3 separate regions of the Homo sapiens genome follow, and all the other regions are linked to region 1. The links come from fine-mapping of genetic effects on gene expression. A gene starts in region 1. Each other region holds a variant in brackets. All regions are shown on one strand. Distances are between the middles of the regions.

Evidence for each region. PIP is the estimated chance that this variant, and not a neighbour inherited with it, causes the effect.
Region 2: its variant is fine-mapped to the expression of ASAP3 in whole blood (INTERVAL, PIP above 0.99).
Region 3: its variant is fine-mapped to the expression of ASAP3 in whole blood (TOPMed, PIP above 0.99).

The regions. Positions count from the first base shown.
Region 1 is chr1:23,480,689-23,488,548 of GRCh38, forward strand. It overlaps ASAP3 (ArfGAP with SH3 domain, ankyrin repeat and PH domain 3), which reads right to left and starts at 3,491. Exons shown (of 25, transcript NM_017707.4): 1 at 3,317-3,491. The coding sequence starts at 3,445. RefSeq lists silencers at 3,326-3,775, 3,896-4,005, 4,016-4,065 and an enhancer at 4,256-4,355.
Region 2 is chr1:23,532,427-23,540,286 of GRCh38, forward strand. LOC124903876 (a long non-coding RNA gene) reads left to right here and starts at 7,457. Exons shown (of 3, transcript XR_007065537.1): 1 at 7,457-7,626. RefSeq lists an enhancer at 7,411-7,705. The variant A/G (reference allele first, on the strand shown) is at 3,735.
Region 3 is chr1:23,413,808-23,421,667 of GRCh38, forward strand. TCEA3 (transcription elongation factor A3) reads right to left here. Exons shown (of 11, transcript NM_003196.3): 2 at 5,270-5,332; 3 at 4,097-4,202; 4 at 3,442-3,583. Among named protein-coding and RNA genes, the nearest start is that of TCEA3, 7.0 kb to the right of the region's middle. RefSeq lists an enhancer at 5,335-5,893. The variant A/G (reference allele first, on the strand shown) is at 3,886.

The sequences.
Region 1 (7,860 bases):
ACAGAGAGCTGGACAGAGCCCAGGCAGAGCACAGCAGAGTCAGAGAGACCCACTGTGTGACACAGGGCAGCTGCCTCCACTGCCCTAGGCCCGGTTTCACCTGTTGTTGTGAATATCAATGAGATGATGGGCATAAAGGGGCCCAAGACAGGAAGAGGCTGGTTGACGTAATGACTATCTTAATATACTCCCTCACATTTGCATGGTGCTTCATAATTGAACACAAAAAACTTTAACAACCCAGTAAGGTAAGCAGGGAGTGATTAAGAGATCCATTTTAAGGATAAAATAACAAGGTTCAGAGAAGTTACGTAGGGAGGACAGACAGATGGACTTTAAAAGGAAAGAGAACAGGACCGGGGGTAGAACACGTGGGTAGAAATGCTAACTTTCCCACTATCCAGCCGCAGGAGCTTGGCCAAGTCTCTTGGCCTCTCTGGACATCAGTTACTCCATCTTATCTGAGAGAGTTTCTAGCTGGTCTCTATCTTAAAAGGGTCCCTCAGCCCTGACATTCTAGTTTCCTGTGATCTGCCCAGGGTCCTTCCCAGCAGGACTGTACAAAAGGGCTGCGAGTCCCAGGACAGGGTCCCTAGTTACTCCCAGGAAACCAGTCAGAACTGGAAGACTTGACTTAAGAATCAGTTGCATTTTGATTCAGTCAAATAGAGCTACAAGCCTGGGGGTGGGTTAGTCAAGCCCAGAACTGGGGGAAAAAATTGCAGCATCAAACTATATGTAAACACAATATAATCGCAAAATATAAATGCAAATGCAAAACCAAACAGGAAACCTCAGGGAAGTCTAATCCAAAGTTCAGACTCTAACTTTTTGGGCCCTGAGATGCTGAAGAGAAAAGCTGTGTTTGGGTGCCGCAAGCCTTTCTGTTGTAACAATGAACCTCTACGTGCACCAAACCAAAAATCTGAAGGCAAAGGAGGATGGGTTTTGTCTTGCCTGAACTGGGGCAAAGCTGAGCCCTGAACAGAGCCTGCTGTGGCCTCCAGACCCATTCTAAGGGTCCCTCCCCCAACACACAGTGCTTACACTTACACAGCCAGGCAAGGCCAGATGTATGGGCATAAATGGGCATTTCTGTCCATGGATAAGGTTCATATTGGAGCCCCTTCTCCTGCTCTAAGATTCTAATGAACAACCTGGGGAGGAGGATGAACCATGAAATCCCTAAGAATGTGGATGGCACTGAGCTATTCTGGGTCATGAAATGTGAGGCTATGAAGACAAATCTCAGGAAGCTCTCCAAAGGATGGGCTGGACAGCAGTGTTTCCCTGTGAGCCCCACAGTAAAATATAACCCACATCCACAGGCAGTGGACTCTGCCCAAGGAAGGAAGCCAAATCTGACCGGCTGCTTCTTATTTTAATAAAACATGTACCCCTACTATGTGCAAAGTAGTAGGCTAGGCTCCGTGAGACAAATGAGACAAGGTGAGGCTCTGTGAGACAAATGAAGACAAAAGAGACCCAATCACTGTCTAAAGAGATCTGCCGATTAATCTGACGATAATCATTCCATTTATCAAGAGGCATGGGCCAGTGCAGCGGCTCACACCTATAATCCTAGTACTTTGAGAGGCCAAGGCGGATAGACTGCCTGAGCTCAGGAGTTCAAGAACAGCCTGACCAACATGGTGAAACCCTGTCTCTACTAAAAATACAAATATTAGCCGGGTGTGGTGGAGCATGCCTGTAATTCCAGCTGCTTGGGAGGCTGAGGAATGAGAATTGCTTGAACCCGGGAGGCAGAGATTGCAGTCAGCTGAGATCGCACCACTGTACTCCAGCCTGGGAGACAGAGCAAGACTCTGTCTCCAAAAAAAAGATGCATGCTTTATATGCATTGTCTCATGTGAGGTACACATTATTACCCCCATTCCACAGATGACAGGACAGGTCACATGCCCACGTTCACCCAAATGGCAAACTGCAGAGCCAGCGTTTGAAAAAAGGTCTGCCTTGGCCGGCGCGGTGGCTCACGCCTGTAATCCCAGCACTTTGGGAGGCCGAGACGGGCGGATCATGAGGTCAGGAGATCGAGACCATCCTGGCTAACACGGTGAAACCCCGTCTCTACTAAAAATACAAAAAAAAAATTAGCCAGGCGTAGTGGCGGGAGCCTGTAGTCCCAGCTACTCGGGAGGCTGAGGCAGGAGAATGGTGTGAACCTGGGAGGCGGAGTTTGCATTGAGCCAAGATCGCGTCACTGCACTCCAGCCTGGGCGACACAGCGAGACTCCGTCTCAAAAAAAAAAAAGGAAAGAAAAAAGGTCTGCCTTCCCCAAAGTCGATGCTCCTTCCACAATCCTCTATCACCCTTACAAAGTGATACAAACAGACTCCGAGATGGAGGGTCACCCTGACAAGAGAGAAGAGGACAGATTTCCTGACACTGGCGCAGGGTGTTATGAACTACTGAGCTTTGTATCTGCCACGCAGTGGGTGCCTAGTACACTTAAGGTGAAGGGTGGAAGGCTAGAGCCGTTGCTGAGGTCCAAAATGCCACCCAAATTGAGGGCATCCTTTGGATGGGGAGCTGCAAAAACACATTATTCTCCGTTGGACCAAGGCCACGGGGTGTCTGTCCTAGAATATTCTTTGCAGAGGAGCTGCGGAAAGCTGCAGCAGGTTCAGAGAAGAGGAATGGAAGGAACTCCGAAGAGCATGGGAATGGGGTGGGGCAGCCTGCAAGACCGAAAGAAAAGGCCTGGGACGCTTTGCTGGGAAAGACAAAGAGGAGAGGGGAGGGGAGAGGAGACGATAAACTTGCCAACAGCCCGGCCAAGGTGAACCCCGGCTCCTGGCGCCTTCCCATCCGCATTCATTCCACAAACGCGGGCCAAATCTCCGAACCAGCCGCAAGCGGGAGGGGGCCTCTCTGCAGCCGGGGGGAAGAAAGTTCAGGACTGAGGCGGGAAGCCTGCCTCTCAGAAGGGGAGTGACTCGGGGGGCACACTTGTGGGGCTCCGAAGATGAAAACGCAAACTGAGGCTGGAAGGCGCTAGGCAAACACATATGTGATGAGGCGGTCACGCGGGGCACTTGGGGTACGTCCCCCGACCTGTGGAGTTTGTCATCGAAGAGACCTCGAGGCCCCCCAAAACGGTCCCTCGGGCCTTCCCCCGCCTCGACGGTGAGGACGCAGCTGTTGGAGATGCGCTCGGTCCTCCCAGACCTAGGGAGGGGGCAGGTTTCGGGGCGCGGTGAAGGGCCATCGCAGCTCGGGTGCGACACGCCTGTGGAGGTCAAGGCCAGGCCCGGCGCCGACCCCCGACCCCTCCCGCCTCGGCCCCCTCACCTCCTCCCGCGCCAGCGCCGCCCCTCGGTACCGGGGCATCTTGGCGGCGAAGGCGGCGGCCCCAGCCGGGGAGCTGAGGTCCTCCGCGGTGACGGCCAGGAACTCGGCGACGCTGAACTGCTCCGGCATGGCGGGCGCGAGCGTGGAGCTGCCGGAGCGGGGCGCGGGGGGCACTGAGCTGCTCCGCGCTGAGCCGGCCTCACCGCCGGCCGGGGGCGCCGTCCCGGCCTCCACACGCCCCGCCCCTCCGCACGCCCCGCCCCCGACCCTCCAGCCGCTCTCCGCTCCTCAGCTGGGACGGCCCCGCCCCCGGCTCCTCGCCTTCCTCCACCGCCAAGGTCCAGGCTCCGGCCCCGGTCCCGGCCCCGCACCGCGTCAGGCCGCTTCCCCGGCCCCTCGCCGGCCCCCTAGGCCACGCCCCCAGCCCCTCACCGCCTCAGACCCCGCCCCCTGGCGCGATGCCCCACCCCTGGCCTCAGTAGAAACTCCTCCGCCTTCCCCCATCCCTGCCCCTTCAGGGCTCTGTCCCGTTTCATCCCGCTCTGGGTCTTCCAAATCCTCCTCCCTTGCACGGCCCAGGCTGTTCCATCTCCGCGTCGAGTCTTAGAGCCCCCTCCCTCTTCCTCCCTCCTCTGCTGATTCGTTCCGAGTTCCCCATGACCTCGCCCCTTCTGCCCTACCACCCCCCCGCCACCCTTCCCTCCTCTCTCCCCAGTCCCGCCCAATCTCCTTGCCTCGCTCCGCCCCGAATCGCCCCACCCCTCCTTTGCTGCGTACGCCCAGCTCTCAGCCTCAGCTTTGCAGGCATCCGGAGACTCCCTCCTGATAACCCCCGCCGCCCCGGGGATGTGTGGATCGGGGCCCCTGGCTAGCTGTGTGACTTGGGGAAAATTACTTCTCTTCTGGAACCTCAGTTTCCTTATCTGTACAATGGGAAGCCTGATGCCCGCTTGATTGTGATGTTGCGAAGAACCGAACACGTGCGTGTACTAGTTCCCTCTTACCCGACCATAGATCGCACCCACGCCTTTACTCTTCCTGCTCCTGCCTTTCACCCCTTAATCTGGCTCACCATCCTTTGGGGCGGATGAGGGATGGGGTTCAGGATAGAAATCCACTTAGGTTTAGTTCTGAAGCCTGAGGTCCTCTGGGGAAAAGTTCTCCAAGTAAAAAGCTAGGAAAGCACCGCAGCAAGGAACATTGGTTTTGGAGTCAGAGGAACCTAGATTCCAATCTTGGTTACTTTGGATAAATTGCTTGCTTCTCTAAGCCTGCATTTCCCCCTCTTAAAATGGCCTCATGGTATTTTACCCCACAGGGCGGCGATTGAGAGAATCTTTTCTTTTCTCGCACAGAAAAGAAAAGAAAAGAAAAAATCCGGAAAGATATGCACTAAAATGTTGCACCAGCAACATTTTATGCACTAGCTGAAGACAGATATGCACTAGCTGAAGACATTATGAGTAACTTTCTTTTCTTTTGGTGAATCTGTATATCCTAACTTTTATACAATGACCATATACTACTGTGTAATAGAATTAAAAGTTGACGGGAGCGATGGCTCATGCCTGTAATCTTAGCACTTTGGGAAGCCGAGGTGAGCGGATTGTTCAGGAGTTCAAGGCCAACCTGAGCAACATGGCGAAACCTTGTCTCTACAAAATATACAAAAATTAGCCCGGCGTGGTGGCTCTTGCCTGTAGTCCCAGCTACTTGGTGGGCTGAGGCAGGAAAATGGCTTAAACCTGGGAGGTCAAGTTTGCAGTGAGCTGAGATCCTGCCATTGCACTCCAGCCTGGGTGACAAAGTGAGACCCTGTCTCAAAAAAAAAAAAAAAGAAAAAGAAAAAGAAAAGAAAGAAAAAAGAATTAAAAGTTGAAAAAAATGTGTACCATCTGATAGAGACGACAACTATTCCAAGAGTTCTTTCAAGGTCAACTTCTCCTGTTGAAACCAAATAGGCACTTTTCTTGTTATTTATTTTTAGAGACAAGGTCTCACTCTGTCGCCCAGGCTGAAGTGCAGTGCAATGATCATAGCTCAAGGCAGCCTCAAACTCCTGAGCTTAGGCACTTTTCTTGCTTGACTTTTAGGAGCATCTGACAATGTTAACCACTCCCTTCTCCTTGAAACACCCTTGCCCCTGAATCCTAGGAGAACTATTTTCTTTGGTGGCCCTCTCCCTCTGGCTGTTCCAAGAGCCCTTTCTGAGATGCACTTCCTCCGCAGGGATCTTAAATGCTGGAGTTGTTGGGAGCTCTCTGCTAAATCCTCTGCATGTCTCACTCTATCAGCCTTCCTGGATTTCTTCATCCAATCCCAACGGTAATGTTGATGTCTTCTGTACTAGTTTCCTGTTGCTACTATAACAAATCACCAATAACTTCCCTCAGCCTCCCGAGTAGCTGGGATTACAGGCACGTGCCACCACACCCAGCTAATTTTTGTATTTTTTAGTAGAGACGGGGTTTCGCCGTGTTGGCCAGGCTGGTCTTGAACTTCTGACCTCAGGTGATCCGCCCACCTCGGCCTCCCAGAGTGCTGGGATTACAGGCATGAGCCACTGCGCCTGGCCACATTTATTCTTTTACATGTCTGGAGGTCACAAGTCTGCAATAACTTTCACTGGGCTAAAATCAAGGTATCAGTGGGGCTGTACTTCCTCTGGATGCTATAAGGGAGCATCTGTTTTCTTGCTTTTGCAGCTTCGAGAGCTGTAGTTTTTGCATTCTTTGGCTTATGGCACCTTCCACCTTCAAGGGCAGCAGCATCTTCAAGCATCTTACTTGCCTTCTTCCCTGTGATCAAATTTCTCCCAGCCTCCCCACCCCTCTTCTTTTTGTTTTTTTTTTGTTTTTTTTGAGACGGAGTTTCACTCTTGTTGCCCAGGCTGAAGTGCAATGGTGCGATCTCAGCTCACCACAACCTCCGCCTCCCGGGTTCCAGCGATTCTCCTGCCTCAGCCTCCAGAGTAGCTGGGATTACAGGCATGCGCCACTATGCCCGGCTAATTTTGTATGTTTAGTAGAGATGGGGTTTCTCAATGTTGGTCCTCGAACTCCTGACCTTAGGAGATCCACCCGCGTCGGCCTCCGAAAGTTCTGGGATTACAGGCATGAGCCACGGCGCCCGGCCCCCTCTTTTTTTTTTTTTTTTTTTTTTTTTTTGAGGCAGGGTCTCATTCTGTCACTCCAAGCAGTGGAGTGATCACAGCTCCCTGAAGTCTCAACCTCCTGGGCTTTTGCGATCCTCCCACCTCAGCCTCCCAAGTAGCTGGGACTGCAGGTGCATGACACCACGCCCAGCTAGTTCAACCTCTCTCTTTTTTTTTTTTTTTTTTTTGAGACGTGATGCCTCTCTGTCGCCCAGGCTGGAGTGCAGTGGTGTGATCTCAGCTCACTGCAACCTCTGCTTCACAGGTTCAAGGGATTTTTGTGCCTCAGCCTCCTGAGTAGCTAGAATTACAGGCCCATGCCACCACACCCAGCTAATTTTTTATTTTTATTTTTTATTTACTTATATTTTTATTTTTTGTATTTTTAGTACAGACAGGGTTTCATCATGTTGGCCAGACTGGTCTCCAACTCCTGACCTCAAGTGGTCCACCCACCTGGACCTCTCAAAGTGCTCAGCCTCCCTCTTATAAGGACATTTGTGATTACATTTAGGGCCTATCCAGATAATCCAGGATAATCTCCCCATCTCAAAATCCTTAATTTAATCACACCTGCAAAATCTCTTTTGCTATATAAGTGCCATTTACAGGTTCCATGGATTAGGACCTGGATATCTTTGGGAGCCATTACTGAGCCAATCACATCTTCCAAGGCTGTATTTCCAGCCTGGACTCTTCTCTAGTTCAAGATCTATGTATCCAGCCACCTATGAGACAGTTTCATTTCACTGGCTCACAGACAGACACCTTAAACTCTACAGGTCCAAAACTGAACTCACCATCTCGTACGCCCACTCCTTGCACCAGATTGTTTTCTGTCCCTGTCTTGATGGAAGGCATTACCATGCACCCCCTCGGAGTCATCCTCTCCTCCCTTCTTCTACCAACCTCCCCTCAAACAAGTCTTGTCACTAGTCTCACCAGTGAGACCACCTTCTCCATCTGCAGGCCAACCCCAGTCCAGACCACTGCCACCTCTCACTTCCTCGCTGGTCTCCCTGCCCCTAATCTTGCATATCTGTTCTGTTGCTCCTCTACTTAGAACTCTTCAGTGCCCCCCGCATTGCTCTCTGAATAAAAGCCAAACTTGTTTTCATGGATGTCTAGCCCTGCATGGTCTTGCTGCTCCTGCCATTCACAGGCTGATCTCTTGCCTCTCTGTCCCCACTGTGATTGAGCCCCTTCACTGTTCTCCCCTCCGTCTGTAATGCTCTCCCACGTCCTTTCAGCAGGCCAACTTAGATGTCAATTCCTCCAAGAACCCTTCCTTGATGTACTTACTCTGGACTCCTACGGGATCCAGTATCTCCCACCACAGCAATTACCACTGTGGACTGTAATAATCAGTTTTCTGGTCTGGGGCTCTGGC
Region 2 (7,860 bases), 52 kb after region 1:
AGGCCAAGGTGGCAATAACCCATGATGATTAAGAGCCCAGGCTTTGTAGCCAACAGCCCCGAATTCAAACCCAGGCCCAGACACTTTATTATTCATTGTGTGACCAAGGCAAATTTTGTAAATTCTCTGATCCTTGATCCTTGATTTTCTCCTCCTAATAGCACTTACCTCATATGATCATGAGGAAATCTCATGAGATAATGCATATAAAGCTTTCATCACAGAACCTGGATCATAAGGAGCCTCAAGAATTGGCAGCTGTTGTTATATCTCTGACTTTTTTTTTTTAGACAGAGTCTCACTCTGTCACCAGGTTGGAGTGCAGCGGTGCAATTCTCCTGCCTCAGGTTCAAGTGAGTCTCCTGCCTCAGCCTCCCGAGTAGCTGGGATTACAGGCGCCAGCCACCATGCCTGGCTAATTTTTGTATTTTCAGTAGAGGCAGGGTTTCACCATGTTGGCCACGCTGGTCTCGGACTCCTGACCTCAGGCAATCCGCCCTACTTGGCCTCCCAAAGTGCTGGGATTACAGGTGTGAGTCACCGCTCCCGGTCACATCTCTGACCTTATCTCCAGTGCATAAGACCCTTTTACTCTAGTCTACGTATCTCATTGGTCCTTTTTGGTCCTTTGAGGGCCAGCTTAAATCTCACCTCCTCCAAGAAGCCTCCCCTGCCTGCTTCCTCTCAGCCAGAATGGCTCTTACCCTCTTGGGACCCTTAGTGTGTTCTACCTCAACAAAACAAGGCTTCGTTTTCATACCTTGTTTATCAGTTAGGTTCTATGCTCCTTCAAGAATCTAGGTCAGATCTCTCTAGAATGCCCCTTAGCATCTAGGGCCTGGCTTGGAGTGCAGAAGGCAGGTAATAAATACTGATTATGATTCACTCATCTGCCTGGCTGCAAAGAATAGGAGAAGTTAATGAGATCTGAAGTCAGAAAGTCAGGAGGCCCAGATTAAGTAAGTCCCGCTCTCTACTTCCTAGTTAAGTGACACTGGACAGCCGCTGCTTCACTTCTCTTAACCACAATTTCCTCAACCATCAAATGTGGATAATGCTATCACTCAGTCAATTTCACATTACTTCAGAGACACTACTTAAATGACAGTGGTGGCGATGATCACTGATTTTTATTGAGAACCTACTATACACTGGGCTCTAAGCACCTTGAGCCCCTCCTCTGATCCTCACAACACTGCTCTGAGACGGACACTATTATTATCCCCATTTTACAGATGAGGGAACCTGGAAGGAATTGTGGCAGAGCAGGTTTGGGGAAGCAGCAGGGCCCCAGGGCCAGGGAGGGAAATGGGGGTGGCAGGGTGGAGCTGGGAGAAAAGAAGGGAGCCAGTGAGGGGCTGAGAGCCAGCTCTCTGTGGTTGAGTTTCGGGCAGCTGGGGCTGGCTTTAGAGTTTCACTGCCTGGGAACTGACTAATTCTTGCAATAGGTGTGGGGCACAGATCTGAAATCTGCCTCCCTGAGCTTGAATTCCTGCCCCATTCATTCCTAGCATTGTGATCATGGTCAGGTTGCTGGACCATTCTGAGTCTCAATTTCCTCATCTTTGAAATGGAGGCGGCACAAGTGACCTCTCCATTTACTGTGAGGCCTTAGTAAGGTGTTGGTTATAAAGTCCTTAGAGAAATGTCAGGTGCATGGTAGGTACTTAATATATTTTGGCTAAGGTTTATGTGAAATGGACCCGAAGAGGCCCTCACATGGAACCAGACTAAATACTTGCAGTTTCAGGCCGGGCACATTGGTTCATGCCTGTGAACCCAGCACTTTGGGAGGCCAAGGTGGACAGATCTGTTGAGCCCAGGAGTTTGAGACCAGCCTGGGCAACATGGCAAAACTCTGTCTCTCCAAAATACAGAAAAATTAGCTGGGCGTGGTGGCACACGCCTGTAATCCCAGCTGCTCGGGAGGCTGAGGTGGGAGGATCACCTGAGCCCAGGGAGGTCAAGGCTGCAGTGAGCCATGATCATGTCACTGCACTCCAGCCTGGGTGACACAGTAAGACTGTCTCAAAATAAACAAACAGGCCGGGCACGGTGGCTCATGCCTGTAATCCCAGCACTTTGGGAGGCCGAGGTGGGTGGATCACTTGAGACCAGGAGCTTGAGATCAGCATGGTCAACATGGCAAAAACCTGTCTCTACTAAAAATACAAAAAAAAAAAAAATTAGCCAGGCGTGGTGGTGTGTGCTTGTAATCCCAGCTACTCGGGAGGCTGAGGCAGGAGAATCGCTTGAACCCAGGAGGTGGAGGTTGCAATGAGCCAAGATCGTGCCACTGCACTCCAGCCTGGGTCACAGAGCGAGACCCTGTCTCAAACACACACACACACATACACACACACACACACACACACACACACACACAAAACCCTCAGAGTTTCTGCCGTACACGCCCTACACTTTCCCATCTCCCAGGCTTTGCTTACCTGGCTCCATATCCTCCTATTCTTCAGGCCCCGCCTCCCCTCCAGGCCCCTCCTCCCCTCCATCCCCATGTGCCCAAATCTGACTCATCCTTCAAGGTCCAACTCAAATGGAGTGGAAGGAGCAAAGAATCTGAAGTCAGACATCCCAGGGTTCAAACCCAGGCCCTGACACTTTATTAGCTGTGTGACCCAGGCAAAATTTCCTAAATTCTCTGATCTTTGATCCTTGATTTTCTAATCCTAATAGCACTTACCTCATAGGATTGTGAAGAAATCTCATAGATAATGCATATAAAGCTTTCAGCATGGAACCTGGTTTATAAGGAGCCTCAAGAATTGGCAGTTTTCTTACGTCTCTGATCCTATCTCCAGTGCATAAGACCCTTTTACTTTAATCTACCTATCAACAAATCTTCAGACTCCTTGGGGGCAGGACCCAGGCTTTGTTTTCACTTTTGCGCCTTCCTCCCCTGAGATGCCAGGCACAAAGTAGGCCTGAAATAAATGATAATAGTTCACATTTCCTGAGAACTTCCTAGGCGTAAACACCCAGCTAGGTATTTTACATACATTATTTTGTCGAAACCTCCCAACTACCCTGTAACACAGGTACATTTTGGACAGATGAAGAAATTGAAGCTGAAATATGTAAAGGAACTTGACAACTGTTTGAAGATGAAATCAGGATCTGAACTCAGATCTCTCCCAAGGCACTGCGCTGTTGTGAACAGTGAACTCAGCCCCAAAACCCCATGTGAAGGAGGGTACATTCTGCTAATGAACCAGGGGTTCCAGTGCTGCACACATTGCTGGAAGTGGAAAGACTGTGTCCCACAACTGGATGAGTTGGGGATGCTTAGTACTATTTTCCAGATGAGGAAGCCATGACTTGCCTGAGGCCACAGAGCAGGTAAGTGAGGAAGTTCCTGTTCCAGGCAACCCCAGATAGTCCTGGAAAAATCCCCAAACTAAAGCAAACTTCCATTCCAGCTGGTGTATCTTCTCCTGAAAAATTCCACAGATTCCCTGTGCTCAAAGTCCTGTTAATCAGAATACAAACTGCTTGACAGACACTTCCTGAAGGTACATATTCCCTGTCCCGGGCTCCTCAGCACATCACCTGTTCACACGAATCCCAAATCACAGAGAAACCAGATCAGAGCTATGGGAAACAAGGGAGAAAAATCCCTGCTCCATCTTCTTTGTGCTTTTCCTATTCTACAATAAACATGTATTACTTTGGTGATTGGAGAAAAAAAAGTTGTTTTTTAAAAAGAGAAACAAGGT[A/G]TTGCTTTAAGGAAGTTCTGCTAGTGGTAACCTTTTTACTGGAACATTGTTGGAAGATGGGTTCGTGGGCTTTTCTAACAGTGACTGGCATGTAGTAAACACTATATGAATGTTTGTTAAATACATAAAATTCTAGGTGCAGGCCGGGCGCGGTGGCTCACGCCTGTAATCTCAGCACTTTGGGAGGCTGAGGCGGGCGGATCATGAGGTCAGGAGATTGAGACCATCCTGGCTAACACGGTGAAACCCCGTCTCTACTAAAAATACAAAAAATTAGCCGGGCGAGATGGCAGGCGCCTGTAGTCCCAGCTACTCGGGAGGCTGAGGCAGGAGAATGGCGTGAACCCAGGGGCGGAGCCTGCAGTGAGCCGAGATCTCGACACTGCACTCCAGCCTGGGCGACAGTGACTCTGTCTCAAAAAAAAAAAAAAAAAAAAAATCTAGGTGCAGTGGTTCGTGCCTGTAATCCCAACACTTTGGGAGCCCGAGGTGGGTGGATCAGTTGAGGCCAGGAGTTCGACACCAGCCTGGCCAACATGGAAAAACCCTGTCTCTACTGAAAATATAAAAATTAGCTAGGTGTGGTGGTGCACACCTGTAATTCCAGCTACTCGGAAGGCTAAGGCAGGAGAATCGCTTGAACCCAGGAAGCGGAGGTTGCAGTGAGCCAAGATTGCACCACTGCACTCCAGCTTGGGAGACAGAGTGAGAACCCGTCTCAAAAAAATAAAAATAAAGAAAAATAAAGAAAAAAACATAAAATTCTAAATCTTGGCACTCCATAAGCTATGTGCTCTTGGACATATCATTGCATTACTCTGGGCCTCTGTTCCTTCATCTGATAAACAGGGCTAATCACAGCTGTCTCGGGTTTATTGCGTTGAAGTGAATCTGGGATGGGATGTGAATGTGCTGTGTGTGTGTGTGTGTGTGTGTGTGTGTACCAAAATTTATTAAGAAGGCAAACAATTTGGTTGGACAACTCTTCAAAGAAAATATACAGAGGCCAGGCCGGACGCAGTGGCTCACACACTTGTAATCCCAGCACTTTGGGAGCCTGAGGCAGGTGGATCACCTGAGGTCAGGCGTTCGAGACCAGCCTGGCTAACATGGTGAAACCCTGACTCTACTAAAAATACAAAAATTAGCTGGGCGTGATGGCGGGCGCCTGTAGTACCAGCTACTCAGGAGGCTGATGCAGGAGAATCGCTTGAACCCAGGAGGCAAAGGTTGCAGTGGGCCGAGATTGTGCTATTGCACTCCAGCCTGGGAGACAAGAGCCAAAGTCCGTCTCAAAAAAAACAGGAAATATACAGAGGCCAATAAGCACGTGAAAAGATGCTCAACATCATTAGTCATTAGGGAAATGCAAATCAAAACTACAATGAGATGACACTTCACTAACCCACTAGAATGGTTATAATAGAAAAGAGAGACAATAACTAGTGTCGTCCAGGATGTGGAGAACCCTCATACATTGGAACCCTCATTCATTGCTGGTGGGATTGTAAATGGGTATAACTGCTTTGGAAAATAGTTCAGCAGTTTTTAAAAAAGTTATACAGAGTTAACCACATGACTCAGCAATTCTACTCCCATATACCCAAGAGAATTGAAAACATATGTTCACACAAAAATGTGTACACAGATGTTCATAGCAGCATTATCCATAATAACCAGAAAGTAGAAACAACCCAAATGCCCATTAACTGATGATTGGATAAGCAAAATGTGGAGTCCAGGCACAGTGGCACATGCCTGTAATCCCAGCACTTTGGGAGACCAAGGCGGGTGCATCAATTGAGCCCAGAAGTTTGAGACCAGCTTGGGTAGCACAGTGAGACCCCATCTCTACAAAAAAAATACAAAAATCAGCTGGGTGTGGTGGCGTGCACCTGTAGTTCCAGCTACTTGGGAGGCTGAGGTGGGAGAATTGCTTGAACCTGGGAGGCAGAAGTCATGCCACTGCATCCCAGCCTGGATGACAGAGCAAGACCCTGCCTCAAAAAAAAAGTGGTATATTTATATAATAGAATATTATTCAGCCAAAAAAAGGAAAAAAAAATTTTTTTTTTTTTGAGATGGAGTCTCGCTCTGTCATCCAGGCTGGAGTGCAGTGGTGCGATCTCGGCTCACTGCAAGCTCTGCCTCCTGGGTTCACACCATTCTCCCGCCTCAGCCTCCCGAGTAGCTGGGACTACAGGTGCATGCCACCACGCCCGGTGAATTTTTGTATTTTTAGTAGAGACAGGGTTTCACCGTGCTGGCCAGGCTGGCCTCAAACTCCTGACCTCAGGTGATGGTGATCCACCACCTCAGCCTCCCAAAGTGCTGGGATTACAGGTGTGAGCCACCGTGCCCAGCCTTTTTTTTCTTAATAGTGACGGGGGTCTCACTATATCCCGTGGTCTGGTCTTGGACTCCTGGGCTCAAGTAATCCTCCTGCCTCGGCTCCCAAAGTGTTGGGATTATAGGCATGAGCCACCACGCCTGGCCCCATAAAAAGGAATGAGGTACTGATACATGCTATGACATGGAAGACTCTTCAAGACATTATGCTAAGTGAAAGAAACCAGACACAAAAGGCTATGTTTGTATGATCCCATTTAGTGAAATGTCTAGAATAGATAAATCTTTTTTTTTTTTTTTTTTTTTTTGAGACAGAGTCTTGCTCTGTCACCCAGGCTGGAGTGCAGTGGCATGATCTTGGCTCACTGCAACCTTCACCTCCCAGGTTCAAGGGATTCTCCTGCCTCAGCCTCCCAAGTAGCTGGGACTACAGTTGTGCACTACCACGCCTGGCTAATTTTTGTATTTTTAGTAGAGATGGGGTTTCACCCTGTTGGCCAGGCTGGTCTTGAACTCTTGACCTCAGGTGATCCGCCCACCTCGGCCTCCCAAAGTACTGGGATTACAGACTAGAATAGATAAATCTATAGAAACAAAAAGTAGATTAGTGGGGCTGGGCGTGGTGGTTCACGCCTGTAATCCCAGCCCTTTGGGAGGCTGAGGTGGGCAGATCACCTAAGGTCAGGAGTTTGAGACTAGCCTGGCCAACATGGTGAAACTCCGTCCCTACTAAAAATACAAAAATTAGCTGGGCGTGGTGGCAGGCACCTGTAATCCCAGCACTTTGGGAGGCTGAGGCAGGAGAATCGCTTGAACCGGGAGGTGGAGGTTGCAGTGAGCCAAGATCGTGCTACTGCACTCCAGCCTGGGCGAGAGTGAGACTTTGCCTCGGAAAAAAAAAAGGCCAGGCACAGTGGCTCAATCCCAGCACCTGTAATCCCAGCACCTTGGAAGGCTGAGGTGGGTGGATCACTTGAGGTCAAGAGTTCGAGACCAGCCTGGCCAACATGGTGAAACCATGTCTCTACTAAAAATACAATAATTAGCCAGGCATGGTAGCGCATGCCTGTAATCCCAGCTACTTGGGAGGCTGAGGCAGGAGAATTGTATGAACCCGGGAGGTAGAGGCTGCAGTGAGCCGAGATCACGCCACTGCACTCCAGCCTGGGTGACAGAGCAAGACTCTGTCTCAGGAAAAAAAAAAAGTAGATTAGTGATTGCTGGGAATGGGTCAGTCTCTGTACAGATGAAGAACATGAGGCTCAGAGAAGCCAATTGCCACCCATCTGTGTGACTTTGGACCAGTGACTTCACGTCTCTCAGTTGTGACGTGGAGAGAATGACGTGCGCCTGAGATGGTGGCTCTGCAGCTCAGTAAATGTGCCTGCGGCGCCTGGTGGGTCCCCCTGCGTCTTCGTTAGTTCCTTTTCCTTCTCTCAGACCTTTGGCTGGAAGCTGGTGGGGCTGAAAGGTGAAGGCTGCCACCTAGAGGTGAACTCTGGCACCTGCCAAAGCCTGCGAGGCGTCTTATCTTCTCATCAAGGTAACTCACCCGCTATGGGCTTGGGGAGGAGAAACAGGATGTGAAAGAAGCAGCCCCGCTGAGGACAGGGCTACTAGACTGGCCAGATTCTTTCCAGATGTTTGTAGGCCCTGGGAATGCTTTTCACAGATGTTGGGTCCCGTGGAGGTGATCCCATGCGGGAAGAGGGACATCCCATGCGGGAGTCAGGTCCCAGCAGAGCTGCTTAGCGTCTCTTGGGGAAATGCCACCTAT
Region 3 (7,860 bases), 67 kb before region 1:
CTTGTGCTTGATTTTCTAAACTTTTTACACTAAACACACCTTGCTACTGAAATGAATACATTTATGTACATGAAAAGGTTACAAAATAGTATACAGAGTGTAATTCAATTTTATTAAAACAAATAGGTATTTTATACCTATTTATAGGTAGTAATGCATAGGAATAGTCTAGCAGGATGTATATATATATATATATATATATAAATTTTATATGTATATATACACACAATTATATGTGAGTGCTTGTTTCTAGATAATAAATGATATTTTATTTTACTTTATTTTATTTTATTTTTTGAGACAGAGTCTCATTCTGTAGCACAGGCTGGCGTGCAGTGGCACGCTCTCAGCTCACTGAAACCTCCGCCTCCTGGGTCCCGGTTCAAACAATTCTCCTCCTCAGCCTCCCAAGTAGCTGGAATTACAGGCATGTACCACCATGCCCAGCTAATTTTTGTATATTTGGTAGAGATGGGGTTTCACCATGTTGGCCAGGCTGGTCTCGAACTCCTGACCTCATGATCTGCCCGCCTCAGCCTCCCAAAGTGCTAGGATTATAGGCATGAGCCACCGTGCCTGGCCCTTATCTTTTGTTTTGTTTTGTTTTGTTTTTAAGACGGAGTCTAGTTCTGTCGCCCAGGCTGGAGTGCAGTGGCACGATCTTGGCTCACTGACACTTCTGCCTCCTGGGTTCAAGTGATTTCCTGCCTCAGTCTCCTGAGTAGCTGGGATTACGGGGCACCCGCCAACAGGCCCAGCTAATTTTTGTATTTTTAGTAGAGACAGGGTTTCACTGGGTTGGCCAGGCTTGTCTTGAACTCCTGACCTTGTGATCCACCTGCCTCAGCCTCCCAAAGTGCTGAAATTACAAGCATGAGACACTGCACCCGGCCTATTTTCTTATTTATTTGTATTTTTAAAACTTTCTACAATGAGCAAGTAATTATCTGTATTATAAAAAATACAAAATCGCTAAACTAAGACAACTAAAATATAATTAAAGACTATTACAAATAAAACATTTTATTTTTAAGAAGAAAGAACGGAGAAAATGATGTCTGTGTTTCAGGCCATAATACTGAGTCTCAGAGAAGAAGGCCATAAGTGACAAGTTCAGCCCAGAACCTGGCTTTCTGCTTTTTCATTGTTACCTCTCCTACACCTGTTGTTCTCATACAGGCCTTTAAAAGAAATCCCTTTACTGTTCTTTTTTTTTTTTTTTTTTTTTTTTTTTTAAACAGAGTCTCACTCTGTTGTCCACGCTTGAGTGCAGTGGCGGGATCTCAGCTCACTGCAACCTCTGCTCCCGGGTTCAAGTGATTCTCCCGCCTCAGCCTCCTGAGTGGCTGGGACTACAGGCGTGCACCACTACCCCTGGTTAATTTTTGTATTTTTAGTAGAGACGGGGTTTCACCATCTTGGCCAGGCTGGTCTCGAACTCCTGACCTCAGGTGATCCACCCACCTCGGCCTCCCAAAGCGCTGGGATTACAGGCATGGGCCACTGCGCCCAGCCTCTTTACTGTTCATTCAGTGGGGCTTGGGGATGGAGCAAACAAAAACAAAAACTGCATGTGTTCAGGCTGCCACTTTTACCTGGATGCCTACACTCCCCATGTGACAGATTAGTCCCAAATCCCATTTGGTCCCTCCCCAGTAGTTCAGCCTCTAGTCCTTCAACTTCATCTCATAAGAGCTCTCCTGCTCCTGGTCCTTCATTTGCCAAGGTTCTCATAACCACACAGGTGCTCCAGACATGGCCAGACCAGCCAGGGCATGAACAGGAGGTAATCCACAGGGCAGGGGACCATGCTGCTACAAATGGGCTAGCAGTATTCAGTAAATGTTCACTCCGTGCTAGGCACTGTGGAGATGGTCAGGGATTCCCCGAGCCAAACTTCTAACCCCTTTGGGAAAAGAAAACACACTCGTGTGAAAAGTTAGATGCCAATTAGGGTTTTTCCAAGTAGGATACACTTGCAAAATGAGCAATGGAAAGGAACAGAACATAGAAAATGTGACAAAACCATTTCACAGGCATTACCTTTTAAAAAGCAGGCTATTAAAATTGGGGATGACTATAGAAAACAAGTCAGAGAACAGAAAGAAAAGCCATACACTAACTCATCAAGAGTGATTGTCTTTGGGTGGTGGGAATGTGGGTGATTTTTTTTTCTACTTTTCTACATTTTCCTTTTTTTTTTTTTTTTTTTTTGTGAGACGGAGTTTCGCTCTTATTGCCCAGGCTGGAGTGCAATGGTGCAATCTTGGCTCACTGCAACCTCCGACTTCCAGGTTCAAGTGATTCTCCTGCCTCAGCCTCCCGAGTAGCTGGGATTACAGGCATGTGCCACCACACCCAGCTAATTTTGTATTTTTAGTAGAGATGGGATTTCTCCATGTTGGTCAGGCTGGTCTCGAACTCCCAACCTCAAGTGATCCGCCCACCTCGGCCTCCCAAAGTGCTGGGATTACAGGGGTGAGATACCGTACCCGGCCTTCCATTATTTTCTACAACAGATTTTTATCACTCTTATTTGTTTAGTTTTTAAAAGCACTATTATTATTTTTTGTTTCAAAAGCAGTACAGGATCATTGTGAAAAAACCCAACAATTCAGATTTAAAATTTTTATTGTATAATACAGAAAGTAGAGATCCTTTTAATTTATAATATATGTCTTGGTTTTTGTTTGTTTGTTTTTGAGACAGGTTCTTGCTCTGTTGCTCAGGCTGGAGTGCAGTGGCGCAATCTCAGCTCACTGCAACCTCCATCTCCCGGGCACAAGCGATTCTCCCACCTCAGCCTCCAGAGTAGTTAGGATTACAGGTGTGCGCTACCATGCCTGGCTAATTTTTGTATTTTTTGTAGAGGCGGAGTTTTGCCATGTTGCCCAGGCTTGTCTCAAACTCGTGGGCTCAAGTGATCCTCCCGCCTCAGCCTCCCAAAGTGCTGGGATTACATGTGTGAGCCACTGCGCCAGGTGCAATGAATCTTATAAGTGGCTATTGCCTTTGCTAGCATCTTGGAATCTTTGTCTTTGGGACTGTTACAAGATTCGGGATGTGAGGCTTATACCCGCTGTGGTCTTGTTTCCCCGCACCTAGGCTGTTGCCTGGGTGGGCCAGAGAAGAGCTCTAGACTGCCGTGCGGTCTCCTATGGGAACTCTCTGTAGAGAAATGCTGGAGGCCCTCCCGCAGACGCACTCTTTCCTGTCCCTGCATCCTTCTAGGCAAAGCCAGTGCCATTTATGTCCTATTTGGGTCTTGTGAGTCTAACATCTGGTTGAGCCAAAGAAGACCCCCAGAGGGGGCACTGCAGGAGATAATACCAATATCTTCCTCCCCAGGATGAAAGGTTTAAATGAGATAATATACACTGAGTTGCTGTCAGAGGACGTGACAAGTGTCAGCTCCCTTCTCTCCATCCCAAAAAAGAATACCTGGTTTTGGGGTCTTCTCGTTTTTTCCTTGGTGGAGAAAGGCCTGCTTCTGGCTTCCAGTCTGAACACTCAAGCCCTTTTTCCTTCTTCTTTGCCTTTTCTCTTTCCTCTCCTTTTTCTCCTTTTGGGGGTCCAGGGGAGTCTGAAAACAAAAGGGTGGCATTGTCCCTCAGCTAAGCTCTGTCTCAGCAGAACCCAGCATGACTTAGTGGGGAGAGAGCAAAGGGCAGGGACGAGGACAGCTGCACACACACTCCCAACACACACACAAACACATTTACACACAAATGCACAAACAACAGGAACGTGTGTACAAATACACAGTCTCACATGGGGACATTAATACATTGGCAAACACATCTCTGCACATATTAAGACAAATGTGTGCATGTAGACATGTACTATATAGACAAATGCATGAGAGCACAAACACGTAAGTGGCAC[A/G]TGTACACAAAACTCACAAGTCTACAAATCTTGCACTTGTGTACACAAACATTGGCAGTCCCCCACTAGCTACCTCCCGGATCCAGAGGCCATCTGTCACTGATTAAGTCACTCAACAGACATACACTGAGTGCTGGCTATGAGCCAGGCCCAGTCCTGTCCCAAGTGCTAGGAGAAAAACAGGGCTCAAGACAACCTTGTCCTCTCTCACCTAGCAGCCGCTTCCAGTTTTTGATAAGGACTTTGGCCAAGGACACCACCTCCTTGTCTGAGCAGTGCTTGCGGACCCCATTAACAGCAACTCCAATCCTGGTTGTCTGCAAAGTGAGAGGGTTAAGGCATAATCTGGGAATGGATACACAGGAATGGCTGCCATCATTGGCAGATCCTGCCCCAGCTCTACCACCACCTCCCCTTCCAACCTGGACCCCCAGAGTCCTAGCCCTGACTCCTGGCTGAGGTCAGAACCCCACTACTGTAACTAAGGCCCTGCTCTGCACGAGGCCGAGGGCCCAGGGCTAAGCCTGACATGGAGGATATCTGTAGCTTTGGTGAAACCTGAACCTAGGGTTGGGGGTGGCACTTGGCTGACTGTCAGGACCCCTCCCATTCCCAACCCTCTAGTGTCTATTTTTTTGAGATGGAGTCTCGCTATGTTGCCCAGGCTGGAGTGCAGTGGTGCAATCTCAGCTCACTGCAACCTCCACCTCCCAGGTTCAAGCGATTCTCGTGCCTCAGCCTCCTGAGTAGCTGGGATTATAGGTGTGCATCATCGTGCCCAGCTAATTTTTGTATCTTTAGTAGAAACGGGGTTTCACCATGTTGGCCAGGCTGGTCTCGAACTCCTGACCTCAGGTGATCTGCCTGCCTCGGCCTCCCAAAGTGATGGGATTACAGGTATGAGCCACCGTGGCCAGCTCACTCTAGTGTCTTTGAGCTCCAGTTTCAACTGAGACAGCAGCTCCGGCTATGAGACCTTGCATCTGTCTGTGCTGATTTTTCAGGGCCAGGAGCTTTTGGTAAATCTGGGGACTTTAAGGGCTACACAGGGATTTTAAATGGGGGCTTTTCCCTCTCCCTGGATCATTGGCCTCTTGGATCCCACAGGCCCAGGGCCTTGGGAATTGGGGTATTCAAGAAAAGCGAACCAGTCTTGCTCCAAGGCCCAGAGGTCCCCTACACCTAGAAGATACCCTCTCCGCCCCCGAGATGCCCCTGTGTCCCCCTCAGTCCCTCCCTGGGAGGTCTCCACCTCAAGATCCCCTCCCCACAGGCCCCCCTCAGAAATTCCTCCCAGACTCCACCTTCCCCCACCAGGGGTCTTTCCCTCCCCCACCAGCTCTCCCCCCAGGCACTGTCCCAAGGCTTCCCACCCCCGCCCCACCTGTAGTAGCTGGATGGACATCTGGCAGCTGTGCAGCTTCTTCAGAAGGTCCAGGGCCCCTTCCTGTGGGAGGCCACAAGGTGAGGACTGGGGCCTGGGTCCTGACCAGGCTTCTCTGACTATTGTGTGGTCTTGGTACAGAGAGCAGGAGGATACAGACAGACATGTGGCCGAAGGACAGGCAAGGGGCAGAAGGAAGGAGAGAGACGAGAAACAATCTGTCCTAGGTGGTGCTCTAACTTCATCCCCCGCCACCTGCTGGGTTCAAACCCTCTGAGCCAGGCTCCTGACCTCCAGCCTTTGGTTCTGCTGTGCCTCTCCCCAGGAATGCCCTCCCCCTTCCCCATCTTTCCTCCCAAATGAATTCCTTCCTGGCTTATTGTTGCTCGTGTGCCTGTAGCGTCCTTCCCTTACCTCCCCACTGTGAACTTCGCAGGGTGAGGACTGGGAGCCTTTTAAAAAACAAAACAGAACAGTTTGGCCAGCATGGTGGCTCACACCTATAATTCCGGCACTTTGGGAGGCTGAGGTGGGCGGGTCACTTGAGGCCAGGAGTTCAAGACCAGCCTGGCCAACATGGTGAAGCCCCATCTCTATTAAAATACAAAAATTAGCCAGGCGTGGTGGCGCATGCCTGTAATCCCAGTTACTCAGGAGGCTGAGGCAGGAAAATCGCTTGAGCCCAGGAGATGGAGGTTACAGTGAGCCAAGATCACACCACTGCACTCCAGCCTGGGTGACAGAGCGAGACTCCAACTCGAACAAAACAAAACAAACAAAAAACAGCTTTTTTGAGGTATAATTCACATACAATAACTGCACACTTTGCAGTGTAAAATTTGATAAGTTTCAACATACGTGTACACCCATGGAACCCTCACCACAATCAAGATAAAAGCACAGCCACCAGCCCCAAAAGCTTCTTCCTGTCCCCTTTCTAATCCATCCCTCCCCATCCCCAATCCTAAACAACCACAATTCTGCCTTCTGTTACTATAGTTGACCTTGTATCTTTAAGGATTTTATGTAAAGAGTATGTAGGGCAAAAACCCTTTTTTATCTGGCTTATTTCGGCATAATGATTTTGGAGACTCATCCATGTTGTCTCGTGGATCAGTAGTTCCTTTTTATTACTGAGTGGTTTCCACTGTATGTATGTACCACAGTTTGCCTGGCATTTTTTGAGACAAGATCTCACTCTGTTGCCCAGGCTGGAGCGCAGTGGCACAATCACAGTTCACTGCAGCTTCGACTTTCCAGGCTCAGGTGATCCTCCCACCTCAGCCTCCCGAATAGCTGGGACCACAGGTATGCACCACCACATCTGGCTAATTTTTTGCATTGTTTCGTAGAGATAGGGTTTTGCCATGTTGCCCAAGCTGGTCTCAAACTTCTGGCCTCAAGTGATCCTCCTGCCTCGGCCTCCCAAAGTGCTGGGATTACAGGCGTGAGCCACCACACCCAGTCTACCACAATGTTTTAAATTCATTCACCGGTTGATGGGACTTATGGATAGGTTCCAGTTTGGGGCTGCTAGAAATAAAGCTTCTAGGTACATTCATTTCAAGTCTTTGTGTGAACAGGTACTTTAACTTCTCTCGGGTAAAGAGAACCGTTCTAATCTCTGAGAACTTAGGGCTCAGCAGAGAGTCCAGTGCTCCCTGAGTGGATGAACTTGTGCAGAACTAAAGCAGAAAGAAGGCAGGAGGCAGAAAAAGGCTTAGGTTTGAAAATCTGTGAGCTGCCAGGCCCTGGACACCCTCCGACCCATTTCAGCCTTCTCCTTTCCCCCAGCCCCTTCCTAGAAGCCATACCTGCCTGCTGTCCTGAGATCAGTTCCCTGGGGAGCACCAGGGGACGGTGTCCTGTATGTTCCTATCCTTGGCCCACAGTTCATGGTTCCAGCTGCCAATCCCCACCCTGGCAGGACCTGGACCATGTCCTAAGAGCTGCCCTCTGTCAGTCCTTAGCCTCCCTGAGAACTTGGGTTCACAGTAGGTTTTCAGAAGCGTGACCTGCAGATGTGTGTGTATGTGAACTTGGGGGTACACAACTCCAAGTGTAACATTAATTAAAGGCTTGCTATGTACTAGGCACTCTTCTAAGTTTTTTACCTGTATTATCTCATTTAACATTCACAATGGCCCTATCGGGTAGGTCCTGTGTATTATTCCCATTCTTACAGAATTATTATCCTGTGTTCACCAAAGAGCAATCCAAGAAAGAGAGAGGTTAAATAATTTTCTCAAGGTCACATGCTTTATAAGGAGCCAAGTTGGGATTCAAACTCAGTCCTTTTGGGCTCTAACCACTATACAAATTGTGTTAGCATGGGCGCAGATCTGTCTAGACATACACAATCATGGAATATCAACATGGGTAAGTGCAGTGGTGTGCTGGCCAACGTTTAACAACCAGTTCTCAAGGAAAAAAAAAAAACTGACCTGTAGTGTTTGCCAATTTCTGTGGTGTAAACACTCATCCCATGGCCAATTTCAAGCTACCAACATGCTGTCACTGAACTGAAGGAAGTTTTGGGAGGAGACGTACACTACCATACCATTATATAATATTTCCACTGTACAGATAAC